Linked DNA regions of Homo sapiens. The protein of the gene in region 3 interacts with the protein of the main gene of each other region in a pairwise test. Each region holds a gene or a part of one and is shown on either strand. Other genes may lie near its edges. The genes, in order: DOK6, GSE1, C1orf94 and TENT5D.

Region 1 (7,622 bases), on a different chromosome or scaffold from region 3:
TCCTCCATTTCTACCTGAGAAATGTAAACTTCAAAGTTAGATATTGAAACAGTTTTGTTTTAAATTAAATCAAAATATTAAATTCACCTTGACTATTTTGGGAACTTTTTTTTTAAGTCAGATACTTTTCTATTCAGAATATTCTAATATGCAGAAGAGTGAATTTAAATGGCAAAACTTCACATAGCTGGTTCTGTGAAGCTTACTAAGTTAAGTGAGTCCCATAAGATAGTAAAACTAAGCAAATATTGTGTGCCTTAAAGAGTCATACCCCAAATCATAAAAATTGAAGTTATCCAAACATTAATATTTGCTTTGCATAGTTAATAATACATATTCCTAATTTTATGGACTCAAAACTATGAACTTTTCCAAATAACATATTTTTTAACTCCAAGGACACGATGAGTTTTTGTGATTTATGTCCAAAACTAAATTTCAAAATATAAATAATTATAATTGAACATGCATAGATATTTGATTTATTATGGACAGTACTCATGCTTTCAAAAATCAAAGTCTGTGATATTCTAATGGAGAAAAAAAGGCCTGGATATGAGGCCGATTGCATCAGAGATAATTATTGACATGAAACATAATTTATGATGAAATGTTCTAATGTGCCCTTTGCTCTTCACAGATAAGTGCAATTTTGAATGAGGGCAGTAAGGCATTTCTTGTCCTCTAGGTAGCAAGTCAGCCCTTTCAGAGGGGCTTCCAGGTTTAAGAGGTCAAAAAGGCCCTTGCCCTGTGTCTCACTGGGGAAGCTAGCAACCTGTTGAGTACAGTCCCTTACCCACTGCTTGGGAAAGAAGTAAAATTTAGTAAGCAAGGCATATATAGCAAAATATCCAGTCAGTTTTTGGTTTGCAGCCAAACTAAGAACTCAATCACTGAAAGCATTAATAATCTAACACTTTGTGTATTGACCCTAAATTTATCAGAAATAGATGCAGCTTTGTGGAGTGATCATCATCATCATCACCATCATCACAGTCATTGTCATCAATATCACTGTACAAATTTTAGACTGCTATACCTTGACTTATTCTAGACACAGACCTCACATCATTTTTTTTCAAGGAATTCATTCAAATACATCAACATGACTATTCACAGACACATTGTATGCAGACAAAATAGTGTCTTCTACAGACATTTTACATTTCTTACTCAAACTCAGGTGAGAGATTGGTGTTGATATGTGTGGGTTCTGAAGGAGTGTCTCAGGATAGGGTGGTGTGTGTGTGTGTGTGTGTGTGTGTGTATTCAGGTACACACTCAAGTAATCAAATTATCTTGGAGTGCCCACAGTTTAAGAGGCAGTGTACACTGGTGTTTGTGTGTGTATTACAGAGTCATATTGTGTTAAGCCTGAATTAGTTATAATAAAGAACCCCTGCATCATTGCTACTGAGAGTACATCGGGCCAGTCATTGTCACTTTGCACCAACTTCGCTGTAGGGGAAGCAGGGAAATGTGGAGGGACAGATTGCGAGTTTTGAAGAGCACTAACTTTATGAGCTGAGCACCTATTGAGAATTTTGCTTTTTCATATTTTTGTTTTAACATCTTATTGTGGATTCACCTACCTCTTGCCCTTTCTCCCTTCTTGATTAAAACCTTAAGACACCTCCATTCCTGGCTTAAGGATAATTGATCTCCTTTCTGTAAACACTGTGAGTTTTCCTTTCCTCTCTCAACAGCTTTCCTCGGAGTATTTGTTCATGAGAGATATTTATGAAAATTCACCCTTTTATAGAAGCTCAATGATTAAAATAAATAGAAATAGCTGGACACGGTGGCTCACGCCTGTAATCCTAGCATTTTGGGAGGCTGAGGCAACATGGTGAAACCCCATCTCTACTAAAAATTACAGAAAGTCAGCGGGGTCTGGTGATGTGTGCCTATAGTCCCAGCTACTCAGGAGGCTGAGGTGCGAGAATTGCTTGAACTCGGAAGGTGGAAGTTGCTGTGAGCTGAGATCATGCCTCTGCACTCTAGCCTGGGTGACAAAGCGAAACTCTGTCTCAAAATAACTAACTAAATAAAATAAAATAAAATAAAATAAAATAAAATAAATAGAAATGTGCATATGTGCATTTGTATATTTTGTCCTTTAGACCATTTTACAATTTCTTTCATCTCCAAGTCTGTAAAAACTAGTTTGTAAAGAGAGATTATATCTTGCATGGCATGCATTACCAATTTCCCAAGAATTAGATGCAATAAATATATTTAAGATAAAACATATAAATAACTTAGTCATTCTGACTATTTAAAAATTCTAAAGGAATTTCAGGATCATTACTTTGTATATGAATTTCCAATATATGGATTTATGGTGCAGAAGTTATAATGAGTGTGTTTCAGTCTTTACTTGTCTAGAATATTGTGAATCCTGGACATTGTTTTCTGAAATGGATCTGTGGTATCTATGTTTATTTATCATTTGTATATTTATCATTTCTCATTAAATACTAATTTAGCAGATGACAATTTCAATTATTTGAACTCTATTTGATTCTAGATTTTTATTCATGGTGACAATTATGCATATTCCTTACGCTGTGTGTAGATTTGCCACTTACTTCTGTATCTATACATATTCCTGCAAATAATGCTAGTTCTTAGAATTTTCCAGTAAGCAAAGATCTTATATATCTTCTACCCAATCCCTATATTTTGCATTATCTTCAACTGCATGTTCGTGTGTATGACATCTGATGTATGCTTAGAAACTCTATCTCTATTGGCAATTTTTTTCCTTTTAAAAACATCCCTCTGTCTGCATATGAACATGTCCAAAGTTCTTTGAATTTCAAAAATTAAGCCAAAGACAATGAAAATTAAGGTAATTTTTACAGTAAAAACCAAATACAGACATTGTGGCTGGATTTTGCTATTAAATTATTATGCCTATGTAAGACCTGGGAGAGGTGGGTAAATCAGAGAGAGTTATCAAGATTCACATCTCAGTTTTTATCTTGATAGATTTACAGATGACTGCTGGCAAGGTGAACTTTAAAAATGGCATTCCTTTTCTTAGAAAACAAAGATAATACTCAGTACTTAAAGAGATCTTTCAAATGACTGAAATTAATAGATAGTGAGCAGGGAAGTGCTACAGTGGTCAAATATCTTTCTACGATCTACATTCCCAGTTTCCTTAAATGTCTTTCAAACACGCACAGTAATGGTGAATATTTTGGATCAGTATAAAATAGAATACGGAATAAAAAATTAGTTTAGGCTGGGTGCGGTGGCTCACACCTGTAATCTCAACATTTTGGGAGGCCGAGGCTGGCGGATCACCTGAGGTCAGGAGTTTGAGAGCAGCCTGGCCAACATTGTGAAACCTCGTCTCTACTAAAAATACAAAAATTAGCGGGGTGCAGAGGCCAGCGCCTGTAATTCCAGCTACTCAGGAGGCTGAGGCAGGAGAATCGCTTGAACTCGAGAGGTGGAGGTTGCAGTGCACTGAGATCGTGCCACTGCACTCCAGTCTGGGCAACAAGAGCGAAACTCCATCTAAAAAAAAATAGTTTACTATGAAGCATATATATTTGACATAAATGTCATCTTTTCAAAGTATTTTTATTAGTTAGCATTGCCCTCTTTGGATCATAAACCATGTAGAAACTGTTGAGTAGGACAATTAAGTATTTGTATCTTTGGACTGTTTCTATTTACATCAATTTTAGAAACTGTAGAAGATAAAAGGTATGCAATACAAACAAAATTGAAATTATCTGTAGTCCCACCATTTAAAGATAATCTCTAGATTCACATATTTTGAAATGCAGTGCTGGTTTTGAGGAAGACATAATTTCTATTAAATAAGATAAAATAATTAAAAGGGAGCATACTATGATTTCTTTAGCCTCGGTTTTATTACTTGTGCCTCACTTTAGTCACAGTATTTTCTGTTTTTCTTCAAGGTCTTGTAACTTTGTCCACAGAGTCCACAAATTCTAGATAGGGAACATTTTCATTAACTTTCTGCATAAATCCTCTTTAGATTTATTTTAAGATACAGAGCAGTATTATCCTCTAAGTAATTCATTTTTATATTGTTACACTATTACTCAATGAGAATATTGCACCTGTCAGTCAAAGTGGATAGAATAAGTAATGATATTTTGCTATAAGCAAGAGCAGAAATTAATAAAGAAAACTATTGTTTACATGGTACTTGCAATGATTAGTGATGGTTGTAACCTTTCAACATGTGCAAAATATTTTGTCTGCCATTTTCCTGAATTATTTGCAATAATTCTTGGTTAATTTTTATTTTTGGCTTAACAGTAAAATTACTGGGAACAAAGACATATTAATGCTTAGTTTGAGACTTCATAATGGTAACATAATCTCACTACATTTTGTACATATTGTGCATCTCACAACTTGTAAAGACTTATCACACATATTATATAAGTCTTATGGTAGGATTTCAAACATATATTCAATTTTTAACCCCCATTCTGTACATAAACTAGAATCCAAAAGAAGTAAGGCAAATCAGCTGGAGTTATTGAGACACAGCTTGGGTTTGTGTGTTTGTGTCTACAAACCTAGGTTTATAACTTCAAGTTCAGTGTAATAGCTGTTATAGAACAGCCACCACTTTGGAGTATATATAGACAAGTTCAACACAGTCATGTGTACCCTTCAAAGTCAAGATGCTTTCTTTGGTATCTTGGTTTAAAGCTGATACAATCATTCACTGTACTCAATGCTAAGTTATTTAGATTGCAGACAAAAATGCTACTTAGTGAAATAATTTATGTCACAATAAGGAAGTACTATGCAGATACTTGTCCAGGCCACACTGAATTGACACAATTTCATTTTCATTGATGCCAAACACAAATTCACTAACCTCTCCTTTCAAAAAAAAAAAAAAATAGAGCACCTTTCAAAATTTACATGACAGTGTCTGGGTAGAATTTTACAAGTTATTTAAATAGTTAAATATCTTTAGTTTAGCATTACCTTTATTTATGGAAGATGATATTTTATTTAACCTGGCTTTATAAAAGATTATGTTTAAATCAACTTAGTGAAAGGTGAGTTCATTTAAAGAAAACCTAAATACAAAAACTGTACAGATTAATGGGGATCTGACAAATCAAAAGGCAGTATGTGTTGACATAGTCATGCCTCACATAGTATGACAGTGTTAGCTAAATGCCCAGGCATTGACAGTACTCAACCACAGCACGATCTTAACTCAAGAGACTGGATTATTTTGTTTGTTTCTTATTTTTGTTGCTTGCTGCTTTAAAGGGGGCTTAAATCAAAATAGATGTATTTAAATTATGTTCCTTTATTAAAAAACTATTAATTTTTTAAGTTGCCTATATGCCACTCTCTTATTCAAATGTGTACATTTATACATAAAATGTATTACACGTTGATGTGGTTTGGCTGTGTCCCCACCGAAATCTCATTTGAATTGTAGCTCCCATAATCCCCACGTGTCATGGGAGGGACCCGGTGGGAGGTAACTGAATCATGGGAGTGGTTTCTCCCATGCTGTTCTCGAGATAGTGAGTTCTCACAAAATCTGATGATTTTATAAGGGGCTTCCCCCTTCACTGGGTACTCATTCTGTCTCCTGCCGCCCTGTGAAGAGGTGCCTTCCACCATGATTGTAAGTTCCCTGAGGCCTCCCTAGCCATGCAGAACTGTGAGTCAATTAAACCTCTTTCCTTTATAAATTACCCAGTCTCTGGTATGTTCTTACAGCAGCGTGAGAATGGACTAATACACATGTAGAAACGTGTGTAGTAATTTTTTCCTAACGATTTTTCCATTGTAAATATGGAATTGCTTTTTTCTGATTACTCACTACCCTTTGGCATGTTTATGTGTGTATGTATATGTGTGTACACACATATATACATATATAATGTGCTATATATTGAATATGTATGTATTTCCAAATGGCACATTACTACCCATACACATGGAATTGCTATCTTTGCTGAGTGGATAGCAGAATGCACTCCCCACCTCTGCACCAGAAGAAGATGTTCATAAAATGCTTTTGTAGAATACAAGGAAAGTTTTTAATTCTATAAACCATTTTATGTCTACATTGGTCTTTACTTGGAAAAATAGATGCAATATTTGTCTAAAATTGGAAAGTTAGTATTTTTTCCCCAAAACTATAAAAACTATAACTTTAACACCATGGCAACCAGTAAATTTTATATTTATTTTTGTTTACATAATTCTAGTAAATTTTCTCACATGCTATGCAAAAATAAGAGTAAAATTATACTTTTCACATATGTCTCCTTGCTTTGAAAAATATTCCTTTTTGTTTAAACTTACTAGCAAATAGGAATACATTTTCCAGAGTGTTTTAAAGACCGTAGGGTAGTTCTGTAGAAAGCATCCATGTCATTTTACTCTTGCTTTCATAGACTTCACCACATATTTGGAATCCTTAAGTTTTAGCTATATAAGTCTCCTAAACCAAAGTACACCTAGTACCAAGTCATGATACTGAATTTACCTAGAAGCTACCAATTTTATGTATAAGTATGAAATATACTATTCTAGACATTTAAAACTGGACAATTATTTAGCACTGTGAAGTCCACTCAACACATTCCGTTGTTTTCTGATATTTTGAATAATTATCTATATTACCTATCCCTTTATTAAAAAACAATCACTGTCAACCACGACTGCATATAGGAGTGACCTGCAGAACTTGATCCTTCCGCCTGGGCGTTCCTCACTGAATTGGCCTGCCTGGAGTTGAGTGTAGGTTTGCTTTAGAGTTCCCTCAAGTGCTTTTAATGTGACACCAGAGTTGATAATTGTTGCCATCAAATGATACTTTTTTAGGAAACAGAGAAAATATGTAACATGCTAGACTCCTCTAAACTGCGAATTACACTGTTGTTAGTGCGAAGACCTCTGAAATATAAAGTTAATTATCCATTAAATCCTTTATGTAACACTAATTTCCTGACAGTCCATAATGCTTTATAATGTGAACACAGAAGGAATACAACAAAAAATTTCTTCGATGTACAGAAATTGACTTCATAAACAATGTAACGAACGTGAGTAAATCCTTTCTGAGGACTTTCCAGGCTCTCTTGATACATGACTGATGCTTCTACCAGCAATGTGGATGCTCTTGAAAGATTTCAATTGTCTAATTTGTGTATTCTCATCTAAGTAATTAAGATACCACGGCTATTTAAATTGTACTTAATTTAAGACTCACTGAGTTCTGAACAATGCAATCATGATTTTCCCAATGGGAGATTCAGTGCATGAGGCTATATTTTTAAAAAACCAGTAGCTCAGAGTCAGTTTTGTATTCTTCATAAACCTGGGCTCATGGCTGTGAAAGACAGTTGCTACCCTGCAACACCTTGCTCCTGATATCTATGAGGTTTATGTTTTATGTTCTTTTCTTTGTTCTTTGTTTCCTACTTAAAGAGATAGGGCATAGATGGATAGATGGGGGGAGAGAAAATCGAAGCAATATATAGCACATACCTCTCGAGTTCATGCAGATAGTAGGTACCCTTGTGGTTTTTAGAGAAAGTGACCATCAAGCTGACAAGTCGTGAATTAAGAAGTGTTTGTTA
Region 2 (7,000 bases), on a different chromosome or scaffold from region 3:
TTCCATAGCTCTGCTCCAGGCCCAGCTCAGGGACCTAGGGACACTGATTCTGTTCCCTGAGCCTCACTTTCCTCAACTGTCCACAAAGGAGGGTGGGTAGGATGATTTCTGAGCATCTTTCCAGCTCTCAAGGCTGTGATGCTGTCCTGGGATAAGAAACCCTTGGGCTCTGGGACGGAAGCGTGTTGGTGGTTTAAAATCTGTCCTCCCTTCTGCCTGCCTCCGTTATCCAGTAGGGCAGCGAGGGAATGCGCCCCCGCTGATCAGGGATGACTGGGAGTGACTGTCACCAGGCCACAGCTAAGTCTCCCTGTGGCTCACACTGCCCGGCACGGCCGAAGTGAGATCCCTTCTGCCTCTCCCAGCCCCCGTCCCTGAGGCCTCTCAGGCTCAGCCTTGCCTACTACCCAGAGGACTGAGGGCAGCCAGCTCCTACCTGGCATGGCCTGATAACATCAGGGTGCCCTGACTCCTGTAGGCATCTTCTTCCTCAGGGCTCCCCAGGGCCCCAGCACAGGTGTTGTGACTTTGCCCACCCATGGACTGCTTCCAGCCAGTGTAGCTGCCCCATCCGGACCTGGGGCATGATGGGAAGCAGGGCCTGGCCTCCCCTGGCTGCGGTGGTTCCCCTGTGGCCGGCTGCACACGTGGCCTTACAGCATTGTGAACTTGGGGGCCTGACAGGGCCCTCATGCTCCAAGCTAGAAAACTGTTCAGTGCTTGGTGTGGCGCATGAAATATTTATTCTCCTGCAGGTTTCATTCCCTTGCTGTTTACTTAAGGACACAGCTTCTTCCTGTGGTTCCCTGTTGTATTCTGCTAAGAGGGACAGCAGCGTCGGATTTGTCCCTTGGCCTGGAGTCTGGAATAACTAGGGAGAGCCTTGGTGGCTGTGTTTAAACAGGGCTCCCGGGGCAGGCTAGAGATCCCTGAGCCCGGCCGTGTGCCTGCTGTGGCCTCTGCCTCTTTCTTCCCCTCAAGCTTTGCCCAGGGTCTCTGCACAGTATTGGTCCAGACATCCTGTGAGTATATCTCCCTTTAAAAAAAAGAAAGATAGCCAGGCACAGTGACACATGCCTGTAGGCCCAACTACTCTGGAGGCTGAGATGGGATGATCGCTTGAGCCCGGGAGTTCTCGGCTGTAGTGTACTATACCCACTAGGTGTCCCAGCTAAGTCCAGCACAAATATGGTGACCTCCTGGGAGCGGGGGACCACCAGGTTGCCTAAGGAGGGGTGAACCAGGGCAGGTCGGAAATGGAGCATGTCAAAACTCCCGCGCTGATCAGTAGTGGGATTGCTCCTGTAAATAGCCACTGCACTCCAGCCTGGGTAACACAGCGAGACCCATCTCTTAAAAATAAGCTGGAAAAACAATACTAAAAATAGCCCTGTGAGTAGATTAAATCTTGTTTTAATTGCACTGAGGAAACAAGCCATTTAGTGTAACTAAGGGGCAGCTTCTTGTTTAATGGAAGGGTTCTGATGTTAGAAATCCCTTCTTTCCCTCCCTGCCTCAGCAGGCCTTAGCCTGGGTCCTTGAAGACACTTTGAGGCCTCTGCCACAGGCCACTTGGGCAGTGGGGTCGCTGCAGTTGTGACAGGGGCCACTGGGGGGCAGTCTCGGCACAGGCCCCATCCTGACTGGGAGGATCTTCATTTCACAGTGGGTTTGGCTCTGGCTGGGCAGACACTGGAAGGTTGTCTTGTGGCTGCCTGCGGGGACAGTGGGGAGGGAGGAGTACTGCCCTGTGAAGGTGGCCAGCCTGCCCTGTGTCATGTGTCCCTACAAGGCACAGCAGGAGGAGAGGGTGCTGGTGGCAGGGCCACAGCCCAGTATATAGAGTGGGTTTCCCCATGGAAAGTGCGGATGAGCGCTTGCCCTTAGGGGAATTCACGCAAGCAGGTGGGAAAATCGACCGAAACTGGATCTGTCCCAGGCCTGAGAGGGTCTCTGCCTTCCCTAGCAGCTTAGGCTGGGAGCCTCCCTATCCTCTTGGAGCAGCCTGCACACACCTGCCGCAGGTGTTGGAGGGCCGGGCACAGTGGCTCACTCCTGTAATCCCAGCACTTCGGGAGGCCAAGGCAGGTGGATCACTTGAGGTCAGGAATTCGAGAGCAGTCTGGCCAACTTGGTGAAACCCTATCTCTACTAAATAGGAAAAATTAGTAGCTGGGCATGGTGGCACACGCCTGTAATCCCAGCTACTCGGGAGGCTGAAGCTGGAGAAGCGCTTGAACCTGGTAGGCGGAGGTTGCAGTGAGCTGAGCTTGCCCCACTGCACTCCTGCCTGGGTGACAGAGTGAGTCTTTTTTTTTGTTTTTTTTGAGACGGAGTCTTGCTCTGTCGCCTAGGCTGGAGTGCAATGGCACGGTCTCAGCTCACTGCAACGTCTGCCTCCTGGGTTCAAGCAGTTCTCCTGCCTCAGCCTCTGGAGTAGCTGGGATTACAGGCACCCGCCACCATGCCTGGCTAATTTTTGTATTTTTTAGTAGAGATGGGGTTTCACCATGTTGGCCAGGCTGGTCTCAAACTGCTGACCTTGTGATCCACCCTCCTCGGCCTCCCAAAGTGCTGGGATTACAGGGATGAGCCACTGCGCCCGGCCGAGTCTTTAAAGAAAAGAAAGGAAAAGAGAAAATGAAAGACAGAAACAATGATCCTTGGGGTGGAGTGTGTGTCCCCTCCCTGCAGCCCTGTTGGCACTGGCTCTCTAAGGGGCTGCGCCATCTGTGTCATCTTAGGAGCGGCAGGCAGCCAGGGAAGCCTGTGGATGACTGAAGGGTCTTTTCTCCCTGACTGAAGGGTTGGTTTCACTCCCTAGGCCAGGACCAAACCGTCACGAGCCAGGTGGCCGTGACCCTCCGCAGCACTTTGGGGGGCCACCACCTCTGATTTCGCCCAAGCCCCAGCTCCATGCTGCACCCACGGCCCTCTGGAACCCCGTGTCCCTGATGGACAACACCTTGGAGACGCGGCGGGCCGAAAGCCACTCTCTGCACAGCCACCCGGCTGCATTTGAGCCCAGCCGCCAGGCAGCCGTGCCGCTGGTGAAGGTGGAGCGGGTCTTCTGCCCGGAGAAAGCAGAGGAGGGGCCACGGAAGCGTGAGCCTGCCCCTCTGGACAAGTACCAGCCACCTCCGCCGCCACCACGAGAGGGAGGGAGCCTGGAGCACCAGCCCTTCCTGCCCGGGCCCGGGCCCTTCCTGGCTGAGCTCGAGAAGTCCACCCAGACCATCCTGGGCCAGCAGCGGGCCTCCCTCCCACAGGCGGCCACCTTCGGGGAGCTCAGCGGACCCCTGAAGCCTGGCTCGCCCTACCGGCCCCCAGTGCCACGGGCCCCCGACCCTGCCTACATCTATGATGAGTTCCTGCAGCAGCGCCGGAGGCTGGTCAGCAAGCTGGACCTGGAGGAGCGCAGGCGGCGGGAGGCCCAGGAGAAAGGTCTGCCTCCCCGCGGGCCCCGAGCTGCTCAGGGAGAGCCGCACAGTGGGGATGGGGAGCCTGCATGCCAGCCACCTGCCCCTCTCCGTCCACTCCTGCTTTTTGCCTGGGGTAGTCCCAGGCCCCAGGTGGCAAGTGCACTGGCTTCTTTGTAGCAGCATGACACCCTCGTAGGGGAGGCAGACCCTAGTCCCCGTGCCTGTCCTGCCTCGATGCAAATTGTCCCAAAAAGCCAAATCAAAGCCCGCCTGTGAAGATAGTTCCGCAGACAAGCATGATGAATAAGTGATGAGCGGAGGCTAATAAGATAGTTTTAAATATTAATAGTGCAGCATAACAGGAGAGCCGGCCTGGGCTCAGCGGGGGCTCCACATACAGGGCCGCTGCCACGAGCTGCAGCAGGTGGGTCAGGGGTTGAGGACGCGGCGGCTGGCACTGCCCCGGGTCAGGGTAGGAGGTCAGGCACTTCATTCTTATTTCTGCTTGGGGGTGGGGCGTCCTCAGCCAGCGGCTCCCTGAGTTCTCCAGAGAGCCAGGAAGAGCAACCGAGCAGGCGAGAGTGTGCAGAGGGGAGCAGGGGCTCCAGCCCAGTTTTCTTCCTGATGCTGAACACTCAGGTCCTGTCCAGTGCTGAGCTCAGCCTCCTCTTCAATAGAAGCTGGGGCACAGGCGGTCTTCCTGGTTGTTGGTCTAGGCTGGATGGAGGGCCCAGCCAAATTTCTCTCCCCTACTCACTTTGTAAAGGAGGAGGGAGATACCCCAGCGCCCCTGGGCAGGGGCTCTGCTATTGTTCTCTGTGTCTTAGAGAGCTCAGGCCTGTGTGTGCCTGTCTCCTCCCAGGAGATGGACTCAGATGGCCACAGCATGGGGGAGTGCATGTGCACAAGCAGCCCTGTGTTGCCGTGGACACAGCCCCAGGCCTGTGTGATGAATGGTTCCCTGCCAGGGGGAGGAGGGAGGTCTTGTCAGCCCAGGGGACCACCCAGCTACTGGGAGCCATGGATCCCAGGGAAGCCTGGTGTCTGCGGTCCTGCAAAGCCCCAGGACTGGGTTAATGTTGGTTTCCACCTCGGTTGAAAGGAACTGGCCTTCAGGGTGTTCAGGTGCCAGCAGGCCTGGCCTGATAGGTGCTCTGCACACATGAGGCCCTGCGGGCATGTCCACTGGACAGATGAAGGCTCTTTGTCTGGCTGAATACAACCATTTCTCCATCAGGGTACTACTACGACCTCGATGACTCTTACGACGAGAGCGATGAGGAGGAGGTCAGGGCCCACCTCCGTTGCGTGGCCGAGCAGCCGCCCCTCAAACTGGACACGTCCTCTGAGGTACTGGGCTCTCCTCCCCACGGACATGCTCTGGGCTGGGCTCTCGTTCCTAGCGTCCACACCCTGCAGTCCACCCCACTGTTGCTAGGTTCCTCCGAAGTCCTGGCGGGTTCGCCCCATGAAGCTCTTCTCCCACCAGGCGCAGCCAGCTACGGCCCACACTTCGAGGACCCCAGGAGGGGACCCCGGGACAGTGCAAGCATACCACTGCCAGTGGCTTCAAACTCATTTGTTTTCTTTCCCAATCTAGAAGCTAGAGTTTTTGCAACTTTTTGGCTTGACCACCCAACAGCAGAAGGAGGAATTGGTGGCCCAGAAGCGGAGGAAGCGGCGGAGGATGCTGCGAGAGAGAAGCCCGTCGCCCCCAACAATTCAGAGCAAGCGGCAGACGCCTTCACCGAGACTGGCGCTGTCTACCCGCTACAGCCCTGATGAGATGAACAACAGTCCCAACTTCGAAGAAAAGAAGAAGTTCCTGACCATCTTCAACCTGACCCACATCAGCGCTGAGAAGAGGAAAGGTAGGGCCTCGCCTGGGTAGGAAGGTGGGGGCTCACTGGGGTGGAAGTGGGTTTCTGAAGCAGCAGGTGGGGCCGGTGGACTCCAGGCAGGATCTGCGATCACTGAGCCTGAGGCTGCCCCTTTACTCCTCCCGGCTCCCGGGAACAGCCTCTCTGTTCTTACAAGCCCTCCATAGCAGCCTTACCTGACAGGCTTTGCTCTGAGAGCCCCACCATCTTGACCTGAGGACTACCCATGTCACTCATCCATCTCCCAGCGCCCGAGAAGGCGCTCTTTGAGCCGAGTGCTCCAGTGACCACCAGGCGTGAGGGGAGGTGCCAGGTGTTCCAGGTTTGTCTGCTGCAGGCTTTTCCTCTTGCTGGACCGCTTAGGTGGTCTGCTGGGTGTTGTGTCCTGGTGGCCGGAGGCCTGGGGAAGGGCTGCCAAGCAGGGCAGCACACACTGAGCAGATGGCTTGCCTTGAAAGATGCTTCCAGTTCAGTCTGGCCACACAGGGCCACATTGGGACAGACCCTCTGGGCTCGAATCCATATAGCAGAAGAAACAACGCAGCCACAACACCTGCTCAGGGTTTTGGCTTCCTTGGCCTGCAGCGCAGGCTGGCTTGGTGCCCAGATGTTGACGTTCCTGGCCCTGCCCCTTACGCACGCTTTCAAGTCCTCGTGGGCCCCTGGCCTCCTCTCTGGGAGAAAGTCGAAGGAAAGCAGAGTTACTTCTTGGACCTTGAGCAGCTTCAAGGTGTTGATCAGGGTGTAGCCGTTTACTTTCTCCTTTTAACCAGTCAGTAGTTTTCCCTTTCTCTTAGCGGGCTAGTGACGTGTTGATTGCCAGCCCAGTTCCCTAGATACAAAGCATCTTTTTCCCTGAATTTTTGGAGGAAAAAAAATTAAGGGCGATGCAGCCCTTGAGTTTCACAGTCAAGAAGGGCCGGGTGACATCAGGGATCTGCTGCGTGGAACATCGTGGGGTCATCTTTCCCCTTCAGGAAGTGGCAGTAATGGTAGGAGTGGGGGAGAAGGCACCCTGCCTCAGAGGCCAGGCCTGGGTCTTTGGGGTGTTTCTTTGTGTTGGGGCCACCTTGTCTGACTTGAAATAAGAATACATCCTCGCACGTCACCACCGAGGTCCGTGGGCACAGTGATTCACAGAGGCGTCGTCACCGCACGGACAGCTGTCTTTGGAGCACGTCTAGGACATTGTGTAGTGGATGCCGAGAGCAATCTGGGCTCGCTTTGAGATGGTTGCTTCCTTTCAACTGGGCCTGCCCCATCACACCTGCTTTTGGTTTTTCGGGCTTTAGTGCTTTGCCTGCCCCTCAAGGCTCGGCTAGAATCCCGCTGTCCTTCTCTCCAAAAAATGATGCAACTGGCTCGTTAATCTCAGGCTGCTTTTCTCATAGACAAAGAGAGACTTGTTGAAATGCTCCGTGCCATGAAGCAGAAGGCACTGTCAGCAGCAGTGGCCGACTCCTTGACAAACTCTCCGAGGGACAGTCCTGCCGTCTCCCTGAGTGGTAAGGGAAGGATAGCCCCACCTGCCACCACCCAGGACCATCCCATGGGCTGCCCAGGCTCAGAGGCGACCACTCGAGGTCTTCATCATTGTGAATGTGGCCTCCTGCAGGCTGTCTTCTTCCATTCTTGTACCAGCGTACGATTCTTGCACAGTTGTGACAGTCATTGGGACGGAACGTCAGTTTGAAGGCG
Region 3 (7,622 bases):
GATTGTATTTGGCTGAAAGAGAGTCCCCCAAAGTGGTCCAAGCCTCAGGTGTGTGCTGCAGAGGATTCATCATTTAGTCCACAAAAAGGTGCTTCCAGCATCCAGCACTTGGCCTTCCAGAGGCATTGACTCAGTTTCTTTCCTGCTACAGAATGGAGCCCTGGCACCAAGGAGCCAAAAAAGGGTCAAGGGAGCCTCTTTCTCAGCCAGTGGCCCCAGAGCCAGAAGGACGCCTGTGGTGAGGAGGGTTGCTGTGACGCAGTGGGCACCGCATCACTGACCCTGCCGCCCAAGAAACCTACATGTCCAGCCGAGAAGAACTTGCTCTATGAGTTCCTTGGGGCCACCAAGAACCCAAGCGGGCAGCCGAGACTTCGAAACAAAGTGGAAGTGGATGGGCCGGAGCTGAAATGTGAGCTGACCTACCCAGGGAGGGATTGGAGGGGAGGGGGTTGCAGTGACCCTCACAGGCTTCAGGGTGGCTCTGTCACCAAGTGGCTGTCTTATCTACTGCCTTTCTAGAGGTGTCAGTTTTTAAACCCATAAAATGGGGGCAATGACTTTCTCCCCATATCCCTTGTTGGGAATACAGTTGCTAGAGAAGTGTAGTTGGCTTTCAAGGGTCACGTCAGCATTATTAATGGTCACTTCTGAATATAGCCCTGACCCAGCATGTATTATATCCTCTCAAATTGCCCAAGCCAAAACAAAAGATCCTTGCTTTAGATTATTTCTATATTGAGATTATGTTCCCGCTTTCTTTTCCTACAAGGGTTCTAGTCAAACCTCTTTTCCCAAAAGGATGCCAATAAGGGGAAACTGAGGACCCATTTCTGATTTTATAAGCCCCCACAACATCTTGTAGAAAGGAAGAATCCAGGATTCTGATCTTGAAACAACTCAACCTAACTTCATTTGTTTAGACCAATTTTGAGTCACTGCATGCTGAATTATTTAATGTTTTAAAATATAATTTTTAAAATTCCCATATAGATACAACAACCTGTGAAAGTTTCTTAGTGTTGCCAAATATATGTCCTTAGGGAGGGGCTGCTTTAATCATTTGATAAGGATGAATTCCAATGGCATAGCAATGGTTCACATAAAGTTGGATTTTTCCAAAGCAGTTGAAAGAATTTCATTTTGTAAGTAGGTGAAATATAGGCCTAGCAATCTGGCTTATTGTATTCCCTTGCTAAATTGCCTTCTTTACTAGTGAATGATGGAAAGAAAAGCTCCAAGCCAGACCTTCTGGGATTTTCATCCCTTCCAAACTGGCAAGGTGTGAACTAATGATGTTTACCTATAGTTGGAAATGTACTAGAACTTTGAAGAACCCTCTTGGAGCTTAAAGGACCTGACCTGTGAGACTGTGAATCCCTAAGGAAGTTGCGATGCTGAAGGTGTCCTGGCCTCTCCCTGCCTCCATCACTGACCCGCTTTGCCTCTCCTGTGACTTGCAGTTAACGCACCTGTGACGGTTGCTGACAAGAACAACCCGAAGTACACAGGGAATGTTTTCACTCCACACTTTCCTACAGCCATGACCTCAGCAACCCTGAACCAGCCACTCTGGCTCAACCTGAACTATCCACCTCCACCAGTGTTCACGAATCACTCTACCTTCTTGCAGTATCAGGTCAGTGAGCTGGCCTGGCTCTCCTGTGGACATCCACGGGGGTTTTGGCCACAGAGAAGGAGTGGCTGGCAGGGGGTCTATTTCACAGAGTCTTTAGACTCCTCTGAATCCCTTCCCTACATGCAAGAGGCTTCGCTGGGGCTATGGAAGGGCGCTGTCAACTTGTCAGCTTGTTGGTTATTTTTTTCATTGTAGTCACATCAGATCTACCCCTTGGTTCATGTGCATGCGTGCGCACACCTCCACACACACACACATATGTATATTTAGTCCTAACTTTCCATTGTCCGAATTCCAGTTCACACTGTGCTCTTTATTGCAGAGTCTCTTTGCTAGTTGTGGCTGGTTAAGTGCTTGGGCTCCCAGGAGAAGATGATGTCACAGTCCTTGTTTCCCACCTCTCTCCTGTGACTTCCTTTGAAGTTGGATGACATATATCCCAGATTATTTGGGACAGTCCCAATTTAGGTCTTCTGTTCCAGAATAATATGAATGGCATCCCTTTTCACTCTCAAGTGTCCTGGTTTGGACAACAAATTACAGTCAGCCCTCTGTATCCATGGGTTCCAAATCCACAGATTCAACCAATCTTGGATGGAAACTACTTGAAGAAGAAAACAACAACAACAACAACAAAATACAACAACAAAAAATAATGCGAGTAAAAGATAATACAGTATAATAACTATTTACATAGTACATTATTAGGCGTTGTTAGTAATCTAGAGATTAAAGGATACAGGAGCATGCGCATAAGCTACATGCAAATACTATGCCATTTTATATTAGGGACTTGAGCATCCTCATATGCCATTTTATATCAGGCACTTGAACATCTTTATATGTCATTGTATATCAGGGACTAGATCATCCTCATATGCCATTTTATTTTATTTGAGACAGAGTCTCACTCTATCGCCCAGGCTGGAGTGCAGTGGCATGACCTTGGCTCACTGCAACCTCTGCATCCCAGGTTGAAGCGATTCTCCTACCTCAGCCTCCCAAGTAGCTGGGATTACTGGTATGTGCGCTAATTTTTGTATTTTTAGTAGAGACTGGGTTTCACCATGTTGGCCAGGCTGGTCTTGAACTCCCCGCCTCATGTGATCCACCTGCTTCCACCTCCCAAAGAGCTGGGAGTACAGGGGTGAGCCACCGCACCCGGCCCTCAAATGCCATTTTATATCAGAGACTTGAGCATCTTTGTATGTCATTTTATATCAGGGACTTGAGCATCCTCAGATTTTGGTATCCACAGGGCAGGGGAGGGAGGGTGGTCTTGGAACCAATCCTCTGAGGATACCGTGGAATGAGTGTATATGGCCACCTTACTTAAACTACACCAAGCAGTCTTAGCTTTGTACCAACCAAGGTGGCTTGGCACACATTCTTGTTCTTGGGATCATAGCTAAAGGAGAAAATCAATGGCCAGACACAAAGGGACAGTGAAGCACCTGTAGCAGGGCTGGAAATTCTACTCACAGAACTTATTTATGCAGGGAAAATGTAGTTTCTTTATTTTGTCGATTTAACTTAATATCCCTTAAGAGCTGCCGCCCACTGGGTAGAAGGAGGGAAAAATTAAATAAATGTCCACTCTGGTTTAAGCCTTAGCCCAATCCAATAACTTAAATAGTCCCTTTAGGTAGAACTCAATTTTTTCAGGAAAGATTCTCCATGCCTAAGATTTCTGTCTTCTGTTCCTCGCACTGGCTTCTCTCCAGAATTGTATGTCATTGTATGGGGAAGGGCAGGAACTCAAATTTGTGCACTCAGGACCTTGGCAATTTGCTGCCCCAGCCTGGCCCAGCACAGCCTGAAGTGAGAAAGCAAAGAAGGAAATACTTCCAACTCGGCTTGTCCTGTTGCTATGTCCCTTCCCCGCTCTCCACTCCTAGGAACCCTATGTCATTCTTTCCCTTTCAACACAGCACAAACCTTATGTCCTATTGGGAAAGGGGATTGGCTCTTCTGCATATAAAGACTCTTCAAGCTGGTCCACCAGGCTTAGTTTCTGAATCTTAAAGGAACTTAGCAAAGTCTCTCTCTGTTTTGTTTTCAAGCTTTTTGTTTGTGTGTGTGTTTGCTAAAGAGAACAAGTACCCGTCCCCTCCCGAGGGAGGGAAAGCTCACACCCCATTGTGGAGGTGAGAGGTTGTGATGAAAGGTGACCTAAGAAGGAAGCTGAAGTGGACCAGTTTCATATTAGTAGTCTATTGTCATGGACCTGTTCATATCAGTAGTCTATTGTCCTTACACAGGTCTTGAAATGTCCTGTTCATTGATTCGCTGACTCCTTTACCAATATGATTCTACCCTTTCATTTTTGTGTGCCTATTCACTATTCATTTACTCACCTACTCACGATTTACTCATTTCTATGTATTTATTTACTCATTAATTTAAGTAATTTTGAAAACCATTTCTCCCTACAAGCCTACTAGAGGCTGAGCATTGTTCTAGGTGGAGGGATTCAAAGATGACTAAAGTCAGGTGTGGTGGCATGTGCCTGGAGTCCCAGCCTACACCAGAGGCTGAGATAGGAGAATTGCTTGAGCTCAGGTGTTCAAGACTAGCCTGAACAATATAGTGAAACCCTGTCTCTAAAAAAAAAAAATGATGACTAAGAAAAGCTTGGAGTCTAATGCAAGTTCAGGAATAAACCAGAGATCAGCTCTATGCATCTCCACCTCTAAAGGGGAAACAACTGCATAATTCATTTAGTACAAGTCGATTCACTCTAAAATGCCCTCACAGAGCTCACCGTGTAAAACTAATTTGCAATGGTTTGCTTTATTAAGTGGGGATAGCATCTCTTTGCTATGTTAATTTCTTCTGACTTTTTGGAGTGGGTGAGATTTGGACATATCATTTTCTGAGCATGACGGTCCTCTGTCTTTAGCATCATAGGGCTGACTATGAGGTTCCTGGGCTTCTGAGCAGAAGCAGCAGAAGGACCCTGGCTGGTAAGGCCTGCTGGGTTCTTTGAGACAGTTTAAGCACTGAATGGGCCCAGCTGAAGTTGGCTGTGGAAGGCATTGGTCCTCCCAGGTAATAAGGAAGGACAGCATAATTTACCTTCTCCCAGCTTCTGTGATCTCACAATGCTGTCCAGCTTCAACATAGCTGATCAAGGGGCCTGAGATAATAGCAGGCAGGTTTTGAAACCAGTAGACTTGACTTTAAAGGTTCTGCTGCTTCCAAGTTAGGCCTTAGGCTGGTTAGCTGCTCAGAGCCATGGTTCCTCATTTGTGAAATGGGTTCATAATAATTGCAGCAGCAGCAGCAGTAGCTACTGATATGGTTGTAAGGATTAATTGAGTCCATGGAAGGGTAAAGACTCTGTAAAATTTAAGCTGTGACACAGATGTTGGTTTTTATTATTATTCAGCCTCAATCTTCCAAGGAAATGGGGTCAGAGAGCTCCACAGACCTTGAGGGGACAGAGAGGAGAAATGGGGAACAGTCTAGCCTGGTCTTTTCCCTGTTTAGCACTGGGAATAAAGATAAGGTCCCAAATCCAATTTACTCAGAGCTCTGTGGTAGGAGGACTCAGAGATGTGAAAGACAAAGTCCCCAACACCGAGGAGCTTCAGAGGCTCCTGGGCTACTTGGCATAAAGGAACTCTGCTCCCAATGAAGGAGGGAGGGTGCGTGGGAAGGGACCATGGCTTAAGCAAAGAACAGTGAATGTTTATTTACCCTTGCCTGTGATGTTACAAACTTGCAATTCTAACAACTAGAAATGTTGTTGAAGTCATGCAGTGTTTTCTAACTCATGAGTGTGGCACCATCTCCTGAGAATCCGCCCTGGGACTGAGCAGCGGTGGGCAGCTGTTTGCCATCCACAGAGCCTAGGGCAGCCTGGCACAAGCAGGTGTGGGATGGTGGAGGCTGGGGAAGTTGGCTGTAGAAAGCAAGGGGCACCTTCCTCCCTGGTGCTCCCAGGAGGACCAGGGCCACCAGCTTAAGCCCTCTGCTGTCCCTACTGTATGGGCTCCTGTGAGGGGTGGATGGCATGGCCCATGCTGGGCATTCTGGAGACTGCTCAGTGCTGTACCTGAGGGAGAAGATGATGAAAAAGAGGCAGAGGGAAGATGAAAGATTCCCATAGGGAAGCTCAGCTGCTGCAACTTAGGCTCTGCGGTCTGGAGGCATAGCTCTGGTCACCCTCTAAGAGGGTACGATGAGTCTCAAAAATGGTGACATGGAATGCTCCCAGCAGAGATCTTTGTGTATGATGCCGTGCACACACACAATTGCACACAAACGATATCCATGCATGTTTGATGCACACACATAGAAACAGAAACAGGCAGGCGCACGACTGCCTGTAGAAAGCAGAGATGAGTGCTAACAGGGATCAGAGGAGGCGGCGAAACAGAGGAGGGACACTTAGCAACATGCCTAGTGGCCTTGGAGCTCATGGAGGGCTGAGAACAGGTAAGGCAACACCATCAGTCTCACTGCTCTGTCCAGGTTCAGGCAGAGGCTGGGGTTGCAGGGACCGGGCAGTGGTCATAACAGGAGAGAGAGGCTGCCCTGGGCTGTAGAGCTTGGAGTAAAGGGGAGCAGGTGAGTGGTTTCAGGTGAAGGAGTGGACAAAAGTGGGAGGGGCCTGAGCATGGGAATGTCAGGAGTGTCCCCTGCATGGGAGCAGAGAGCAAGGAGGGGCTCTGAGAAGAGGTACACTCTTGGGGACCTGGAAGATGGAGCAGGAGGAGAGCAGGGAGACCTACTTGCAGACTCCATATCAGAAAGTCCACAGGCCATGAGGGAACCCTCAAGGGTGTAGGGTCAGCCATCATCAACACTTTGGTCATTGGCACAAGCTGAGCTGAGAATGGAGGCAGCCTCTCGGGCAGCAGATCTTCTGAGAAGATGTCCTGGGCTGAGGGGTACTTTGGGTTTTGAGCCTCATCTTAAGGGAAAACTCGGGATTGACAGGTGGAGGCAGAGTCTGAGACTAGAACTGACCACTGCCACAGCAGCAGTTCTGCGGGGTGTGTGTGTGTGTGTGTGTGTGTGTGTGTGTGTGTGTGTGTCTTACGTCTGTGTGTGGACACATGAGCACCTCAAGACAGAATTGTGAGTAAAATGTCAATTTCCCATCTGGCTGAACTGCCAGAAAGCTGTTTAAGGGAGGAGGCAGTGATGGATGACAAACACACTGAACATTGAGTCCTTACTATGTGCAGGGCACTGTTCTAAGCTCTTTAGATGTATTAACACTTTCACCCTCACAGTGCCCCTCTCCGTAAGCTACAGACACAGGTATATGGATGGGCACATAGATACACAGCAACACTAACACACCTGGGTTCACAGTTGTATATTTGTACACAGAAATACACAGCTGCATAGACACAAATGTAAACACACATGCAGGTGTATTTAACATGGATGCAAACCAACACACACACGTAGAGACGTGCATAGACACCTTGTGTCTTCAGGGGGCAGGTATGGGATTAGGGGAAGGCATTTAGAAAAGTTGTGTGGACAGCAACAAAGATAATGTGGCTACCTTCATAGGCTTTGCAGGCCTGAGCACATGCAATTTTTTAGAGAAGGAAAAAGAGGCTCAGAGATGTGATTTGCCCAAGGTCACACAGCCACTAAAACACAGATCTGGGACTCGGGAGGCAGTCAGGCTCCTGAAGCTCCTGTCTCCCACACTCATCAGAAAGGCTGTGAAGGCTGCCTAAGAGGGGCTTCCTGTGTGATGTGAGTCCTGCTTCTCCTGGCCTGGTTCCAGCTGGCCTCAGACAGCCCATGGGTCTGGTCAGCAATGTGATGGGACAAACTCAGTCCTGTCTGGGAACTGAGCTGAGTAGCTGATGCCTTCTGGCAGGAAACCCCTTGCCTGGCCATACTGAGCCTCTGTTTCTCCCCAGGGCCTGTACCCACAGCAGGCAGCGAGGATGCCCTATCAGCAGGCTTTGCACCCGCAGCTGGGATGTTACTCCCAACAGGTGAGTAG
Region 4 (8,560 bases), on a different chromosome or scaffold from region 3:
TTTTTTTTTTTCTTTTCTAAACATGCTTTAAACCGTAAGCTCGGCCTAAATAAATCATTGCTTCAGCTCCTAATTGGTCCCAGGGCCAAGGTCTTTGGCCAAGCTTTCACTTCAGCTTCTACTAGGTCCTGGGCCAAGCTAGGTAGCCCCAATAAATCATCACTTCAGCTCCTGATTGGTCCCAGACCAAGCTAAATCACACTTTCCTCAAAACAGCCTGCAAACTATGCACATTCCTTCCCATCCCGGTCCATAAAAACCCTGAACCCCGGCCTCATGGTGGGGAACCCCTTTGGGCCCCACTGTCTGCTGCAGAAAGCGTTCTTCTTTTGCTTATTAAACTTTCACTTGAAATTCACCCTTGTGTCCACGCTCCTTAATTCTCTTAAATATAAAAAAAAAACTCTGGATACTATCTCAAACAACAAAATACTGCTACATATTTTGCTTCATTGGGAAAACTACAACAGTAGTACTACTTCCCCTTCCTACTCTTCCTCTGCCCCTTCCAGTGGCTGTAGCTGGTAAAGATTTATAGCTATGTGAATTCAACAGTCACCAAGTGAGCTTCTCTTGCTTCTGATGTAAATGATGCAGAGTTGCTGCCTCTCCAAACTGCCACCAATTTCAGAGAAGCAAGCTGGCCAGAGAAATCTCCAGCCCCTTTTGAAGGGAATCGCTGAGAATACTCTGAAGTACAACAGGCTTTCAAGCAAGCTGGGAGGTAAAGCCACCTAGTGAGACCAAAATGCCATTCTCTCTGCACTGGATGCTGTACAACTCGCCATGACCCTCACAGTAAACCCAGTAACCTCATAAGCTTTATCCACATCATTCCAAATCACTAACCCCTCTGTGGATAACCCTGTCAACACTCAAGGAATTAAGTATTCTCTGAAGGGGACTCCAGAATTATAGCCAACACCATATACATCTTTCACATCCCTCTTAAACACTATCTGAGGAAGGAGAAAAGTAGAAACTCATCCCAATGTTTCTAGAAAAAGCCTTTTACTAACAAAAAAAACCCAAAAAACTTCTGTTCATAGCTCTCCCCGTCTACTCACCGCACCCTCTCAGACATTAAAACTTACCTCACCAACTGCTGCTCTCCTCAAACCCATCCCATCAAGGAGAAAAACTACAGGGGTGTGGTGTTAGCGTGAGGCTCAGGAGGGAGCCTGCTAGTAGGCAAGCAAGAGAAGGGGCCATTAAAGAAAGATAAAATGAAATGCAATTTTTTTTTTGAGACATAGTCTAGCTCTGTTGCCAGGCTGGAGTGTAGTGGCGCGATCTCAGCTCACTGCAATGTCTGCCTACCAGGTTCAAGCGATTCTCCTGCCTCAGCCTCCCGAGTAGCTGGGATTACAGGCATGCGCTGCCATGCCCAGCTAATTTTTGTATTTTTAGTAGAGACGGGGTTTCACCATGTTGGTCAGGATGGTCTTGAACTCCTGACCTCGTGATCCACCCACCTCAGCCCCCCAAAGTGCTGGGATTACAGGCATGAGCCACTGCACCCAGCCATGAAAGGCATTTTTTTAAAGGGAGAGAAATAAAGAAAGAAGGAATCATATGGATTCTACCTACCCTAGGTGGGGTGATCTCTTATTACTTTCCATTCTCCTTCATTGCTGAACTTTCTCCCATGGGATACTACTACCTTTCTCCTTTCCTATACCAAAAACTATTTTCCCTTTTTTTCTTATAAATAATGACTTGCCCCATGAATTCCCAACCTCCCACTCAGTAACCTCCACTTTTTTTCCCACCCCCCGACACACAAATAACTCCTCCTTCTCCTCACATTTCTTCAAGCATTTCCAACACAAATACAAATTTAAGTTCACGCTCAGAAGGCAGTTTTGCTGAAAGACGTGGCATTTTTTTCTAGTCACTTTTTTCCTTAAGTCTCCTTATCATGGGGAAGTCCCCTCCCTCATTTCAACACCTTCTACTCTTAGTTTGGCTACAGATATTCAGGTCCTCATATTTTCTCTCACATCTGCAGTTAATTTTCATAGGAGAAAAAGGGTGAATGATAATGGCATTCTTTAAAGAAACAATTTCAAAATGCAGTCTTTGCTATTTTAAAATACAATTGGCTTAATAAAATCCATTCAGTTTATGATTAATTTGATTATTTTTCTAAACTTTACTTGCATTAAATTGTTCTACTAGAGGAAAATAAGGTAACTTCACTCTTAAGGTACTTAAAAGCTATACAAGTGAGGCCAGGCACGGTGGCTCACGCCTGTAATCCCAACACTTTGGGAGGCCGAGGCGGGTAGATCACGAGGTGAGGAGATCAAGACCATCCTGGCCAACATGGTGAAACCCCGTCTTTACTAAAATACAAAAAAAAATTAGCTGGGTGTGGTGGTGCATGCCTGTAGTCCCAGCTACTCTGGAGGCTGAGGCAGGAGAATCGCTTGAACCTGGGAGGCAGAGATTGCAGTGAGCCGAGATCATGCCACTGCACTCTAGCCTAGTGACAGAGTGAGACCCCATCTAAAAAACAAACAAACAAACAAAAACTATACAAATGAGATAAGACATGAGTGCTTTAAAGGAAAAAAAATAATCTGAAAAGGAAGTTCAGGACTATATAAAAAAAATACAGATATGTAAACATGCTTGATTACCTGACAATAACTTTCTTTCACTGGTATGTAGTAATTAAAAACATTTGATATCAAAAAAGGAATTAGGTATAGTCTTTTAATACTTCACTTCAGAAACAAATTAAAGTTTGAAAATAATCCATCATCAGGCTATTTATTGAGATGTCAATGTGTCAGTCAATTAATGTAGGACGTAGGGAGTTTTGTAACTCTCTTACTCTAGAGTTCTGAAAAAACATAATTCTTAATACTATATCAACGTATCAGTTATGTCTTTTATCTCTTACTCTTGAGCTAGTTCAGAAAATAAAATATTAAAACAATTATTGATGCCCTTTTAAACATATTAACTGAGTTCAGTTTTACCACAGCCATGATTTTGGGCACAGTTATTAATGAAAGAGATAATTTTCAAAGATATTTTAGTTGAATCAAATAAGTTTCTGGACAAAATATAAATTAAACGTCAATTTTGATGTGTGCTCAGAGTTAAAACTAAAAGAAAAACTCCCTTTCTACAAGATTGCTCACCGTGTCTTCTGATAGTAGACTTTGCTGAATTTAACAGTCTTACTCTGAAGACTAACATCCTTTACCAGAGTTCTGCATCACCTGATCTCCACACATTCTCTACACCTCACTTGCTGCAATTCCAGGGTTACTGTTGCCAGGAGACAAGGAATATTATTATTGCATCATTAATGCTCTTATAGATGGGGGAATTTTCAAAAAATAAATTTAAATAGGGCAATTCTGAGTCCCAAATCTCAAAAAAGACAATGTTATACTAGATATATTAAAGATTAAAAACAGGTTCCTCAAGATACTTGAACTTAAGTTAAAAAATAGTGAAGAGGGAGGAAGGAGAAAAAAATAGTGAAAATAACCAGTTAAACCATGCAGATTCACACAGATAGGCAAACATTTTTGTTTTGTAAGTATTGTAACTGCCTACATGTAACTTCAAAATTAAGTTGTAATTTCTGAAATACAGAATTTGGGAAAATATTCTCTATTTAATTTTTACCCCCAAGTGAACATGTTTTTGTTTTAAAAAAAATTCTTAAACAATTAAAAAGAGGCTGGTCATGGTGGCTCATGCCTGTAATCCCAGCAATTTGGAAGGCTGAGGCTGGAGGATTACTTGAGCCCAGGAGTTCAAGACTAGCCTGGGCAAGATAGAGAGACTTCGACTCTATAAAAAATATAAAAAGAAATTAGCTCGGTGTGGGGATGCATATCTGTCATTCCAGCTACTCAGGAGGCTGAGGTAGGAGAATTGCTTGAGCCCAGAAGGTCAAGGCTGAAGTAAGCCATGATCACACCACTGCACTCCAGCCTGAGAAACAGAGCAAGCCTTTGTCTCAAAAAGAAACAGTTAAAAAAGTATTATGGTTGATAAGTATAATTGTTTTGAGTGCCAACAACTAATTTTTAAAAAGAACATTTAAAAGACAGAGTTCTTCTCAAAATAATGTTTTGTTACAGTATGTCCAATTTATAGAAACTATCACATAACTGTTTGAATAAGAATATCAAGATTACAAAGATAGGCAAATAGGTAGATATAGGAAGAAAATTGTCTGGCTAAGCCAGTGATCCATGTGATATTTTTAAGATAGATAATTTATAGCATTTTCCAGTAAAACATAGAAAAGACTAAATACATTTTGGAGGGGCCAAAGGTAAAACAAGATACCTACTCAATGTTTTCCTGGCAGTATAATATATGACAAAGAAATAAATAATTTTTAGTAACATTTAAGACTATAATCCTAATCCTTGTATATAAAGAATGTTACACTGGAGTTTAATTTTAAAGAAAAATATACGTGTACAGTTTCTTAAAGATATGAAAATTACATTACATGATATATATAATACTGAATATAAGTTTTTAATTTTAAACTTTTGAGTGTAGAATTTTTAAACATAATTAAATGGCAATGATAACTAAAAATTATATGATGCTTATAATGTGTCAGGTATTAAGTGCTTTAATTAACTCAATCCTCATTCAAAAGAATGTGAAGAATAGAGGTAGGGTCTATGATCCCATTGAAAAAAATAAAAAACAAATTATGCAAAGAAATTCATGAAAAGAGTAACAGATAAAATGGACATGATGAACAAAGAGTTAGCTAGCTAGGTAGGGGGTGGAGGAGGGGTTTTAAGTAGAATAAGAAATCAGATATTTTGTAGGGTGCCATTTAATATACAAGCAAGGGTTATTGGAAAGAAATCTGAAAATGTCATAAGGCAGTTTCATTAATCAGCAATAATGAATTCTGTAAAGTACTACATGTTTAAAATAAAATACATATATCAGATATAGGTCAAATTCTAAAATAAAATACATATATCAGATATAGGTCAAATTCTCAACTATCTTTTTATAAAGATTTAAAAATATGTCTTTTACCAATATAAAAAGTCAAAACAGTATAATAACAAAGATAGTACAAGTATCAGTGAGAAAGAAGATAGGAGGAAGGAGTTTTGGGAGAAGAAAAGACAAAACAGAAGTCAAAAGACAACTACTGCTAAATAGCTGTTTAGCAATCCAAATATTCTGGTTTCATCCCCATTCATTCCAAAGGTCATAATTCCCAATTTGACCAATAGTGTCATTCTCTTTTGACTCATTTTGGATACATATACTTTTTAAATCAACCAGAGTTTTGGGAGGCTGAAGCAAGAGGATCTGTTGAGGCCAGGAGTTTGAGACCAGTGTGGGCAACATAATGAGACCCTGTCTTTGAAAAAAAATTTAAAAAATTAGTTGGGCATGGTGGCATGAACTGGTAATCCTACCAATTTGGGAGGCTGAGGTAGGATTATCACTTGAGCTCAGGAGTTCGAGGCTGCAGTGAAGCATGACTGCCCCACTGCACTCCAGCCTGGGCAAAAGAGCAAGAACCTGACTCAAAAAAAAATCATTAAAGATCCCTTTTCAAGTAAGAATGATTTTTATGTTACTGAGTGAATTGTGGCATTTTAGGGCAAAAATGAGGAAATAATCTCAGAGCTCAAAGACTGGTTCTCTGAAATAACTCAGTTGGAAAAAAATTTTTAAAAATATTAAAGAAGTATAAATAAAACCTCCAAGAAATACAGGATTATGTAAAGCGACCAAGTCTACACCTGATTGGCACCCTTGAAAGAGAAGGAGAGAAAGCAAACACCTTGGAAAACCTATTTCAGGATATTGTTCATGAACATTTCCCAAGCTCACTAACAAGGCTAACATCTAAATTCAGGAAATGCAGAGAATCCCTGCAAGATAATATACATGATGACCTTACCCAAGACACAAAGTCATCAGATTTTCCAAGGTTGAAATGAAAGAAAAAATGTTAAAGGAAGCTAGAGAAAATGGAGCAGATCACCTACAAAGGGAACTCCATTAGGCTGACAATAGATCTTTCAACAGAAACCCTAAAAGCCAAAAGGCACTGGAGGCTTGTATTCGGCATACTTAAATAAAAGAAATTCAAAGCAAGAATTTCATAGCCAGTCAAACTAAGCTTCATAAGCGAAGGAAAAATAAGATTCTTTTCAGAAAAGCTAATGCTAAAGGAATTTATTACCACCACACCTGCCTTAGAAGAGGTCCTGAAGATAGGGCTAAAAGTGGAAAAAAAAAAAAAAAAACTATTACCAGCCACCACAAATACACACTTAAGCACACAGATGACTGATACAATAAAGCAAACACACAAACAAATCTGCATAATGAATAGCTTATAACATGATGATAGAATGAAATCTGCACATATCAATATTAACCTTGAACATAAAGGCTTAAATGCCTCAAGTAAAAGGTACAAATTGGAAAGTTGGATAAAGAAACAAGATCCAATGGTATGCTGTCCTCAAGAGACCAATCTCACATATAATGACACCCAGACTCAAAGAAAACAGATGAAGAAAAATCTTTCATACAAATGGAAAATAGAAAAAAAAAGCAGGGATTGCTATACTAATTACAGACAGAACAGATTTTAAAGCAACAAAAGTCAAAAAGGAGAAATCAGGAAATGATATAGTAGTAAAGGGTTCAATTCAACAAAAAGACCTAACTATTCTAAAGATATATGCACCCAACACAGGAGCACCCAGATTCATAAGGCAAGTTCTTAAAAACCTATAAAGATACTTAGATAACCACACAATAATAGCAGGAGAGTTCAATGCCCCACTGACAGTATAAGAAAAATCATTGAGGCAGAAAACTAACAAAGTTATTCAGGACCTGAACTCAACACCTGACCAAATTGACCTAATAGACATCTACAGAATTCTCTGAAAAACAAGAGAATATAAATTCACAGCTGCACATGGCACATACTCTAAAATTGACCACACAATCAGCCAAAAAACAATCCTCAGCAAATTCCAGAAAGAAAGAAAGAAAGAAAAATTCATACCAACCACATGTTCAGACCACAGCACCCCCCACCCCAAACAGACATCAATACTAAGAAAATTGCTCAAAACCATACAGTTACATGAAATTCAACCTGTGCCTGGATGACTTCAGGGTAAACGAGGAAATTAAGGCAGAAATCAAGACATTCTTTGAAATTAGTAAGAAAAAAGGGACAACATACCAGAATCCCTGGGACACAACTAAAGCAGTGTTAAAGGGAAGTTTATAACACTAAACGATGACATCAAAACGTTAGGAAGATAAAAAAAAAAAACCAACTAACATAACGTAAAGAGGAAAAATAAAAACAAAAGCAAATTAACCTCCAAACCAGCAGAAGATAATACCATAATCACAGCCGAACTGAAGGAAATTCAGATGCAAAAAAAAAAAAAAAAAAATTCAAAATATCAATGAAGCCAGGAGTTGGTTCTTTGAAAGAATAAATAAGATAGACAACTACCTAGATTAGTAAAGACAAAAGAGAGAATATCCAAATAAACAAAATCAGAAATGACTACAGGGACATTACCACTGACCCAACAGAAATACAAAAAAAAAAGAAAAAAACCTTGAGTACCTCTACACACACAAACTAGAAAACCTAGAATAACTGGATAAATTCCTGTAAACATACAACAACTGAGATTGAACCAGGAATAAACTCAATCCCTGAACAAACCAGTAATGAGTTCTAAAATCAAATCAGTAATAAAAAGCCTAAAAATCAGAAAGTACAAAGACCAGACAGATTCACACTGAATTTTATCAAATGTATAAGGAAGAGCTGGTGCCATTCCCATTGAAACCAGTCCCAAAAACTGAGGAGGAGGTGCTGTTCCCTAACTCATTCTATGAGGCCAACAAGATCTTGATAACCACAAAACGGCAAAGTCAAAACAAAAAAGAAAACTTCAGGCCAATATCCTTAATAAACATGGATGCAAAAATCCTCATGAAAACATCAGCAAACCGTATCAAGCAACACATTAAAAAGTTAATCCATCATGATCAAGTAGGCTTTATCCCTGGGATGTAAGGTTGGTTCAACATATGCAAATCAATAAATGTTCACATAAACAGAACTAAAAACAACAACAACATGAAAATCTCAATAGATGCAGAAAAGGCTTTTGATAAAATTTAACATCCATTTATGTTAAAAAATCTTAATAAACTAGGTATTGAAGGAACATATCTCAAAATAATAACAGCCATATATGACAAACCCAAAGCCAATCATACTTAATGGGCAAAAGCTGGAAGATTTCCCTTGCAAACCAGAACAGGACAGGTATGCCCATTCTCAAGACTCCTATTCAACACAGTACTGGCAGTCCTAGCTAGAAAAATCAGGCAAAACAAACAAACAACAAAAAAATAAAGGGTATCCAAATAGGAAGACAGGAAGTCAAACTATCACTGATTGTTGATTATATTATTCTATACCTAGAAAACCCTATAGGCTCTGCCCAAAAGATTCTTGATCTGATAAACAACTTCA

Evidence for each region.
Region 1: the proteins of C1orf94 (region 3) and DOK6 interact in binary tests that used the Homo sapiens proteins (3 or more experiments, as listed by UniProt).
Region 2: the proteins of C1orf94 (region 3) and GSE1 interact in binary tests that used the Homo sapiens proteins (3 or more experiments, as listed by UniProt).
Region 4: the proteins of C1orf94 (region 3) and TENT5D interact in binary tests that used the Homo sapiens proteins (3 or more experiments, as listed by UniProt).

Annotation. Positions count from the first base shown.
Region 1 is NC_000018.10:69,403,548-69,411,169, forward strand, and holds part of DOK6 (docking protein 6), read left to right. Parts: intron 1-7,622. UniProt on the Homo sapiens protein: DOK proteins are enzymatically inert adaptor or scaffolding proteins. They provide a docking platform for the assembly of multimolecular signaling complexes. DOK6 promotes Ret-mediated neurite growth. May have a role in brain development and/or maintenance.
Region 2 is NC_000016.10:85,658,322-85,665,321, forward strand, and holds part of GSE1 (genetic suppressor element 1), read left to right. Parts: intron 1-1,056; exon of another isoform or gene 1,057-1,354; intron 1,355-2,824; coding exon 2,825-3,444; intron 3,445-4,659; coding exon 4,660-4,772; intron 4,773-5,022; coding exon 5,023-5,293; intron 5,294-6,693; coding exon 6,694-6,807; intron 6,808-7,000.
Region 3 is NC_000001.11:34,200,621-34,208,242, forward strand, and holds part of C1orf94 (uncharacterized protein C1orf94), read left to right. Parts: intron 1-151; coding exon 152-412; intron 413-1,463; coding exon 1,464-1,639; intron 1,640-7,536; coding exon 7,537-7,614; intron 7,615-7,622.
Region 4 is NC_000023.11:80,415,159-80,423,718, reverse strand, and holds the start of TENT5D (terminal nucleotidyltransferase 5D), read right to left. Parts: upstream 3,273-8,560; 5' UTR 3,156-3,272; intron 1-3,155. UniProt on the Homo sapiens protein: Catalyzes the transfer of one adenosine molecule from an ATP to an mRNA poly(A) tail bearing a 3'-OH terminal group.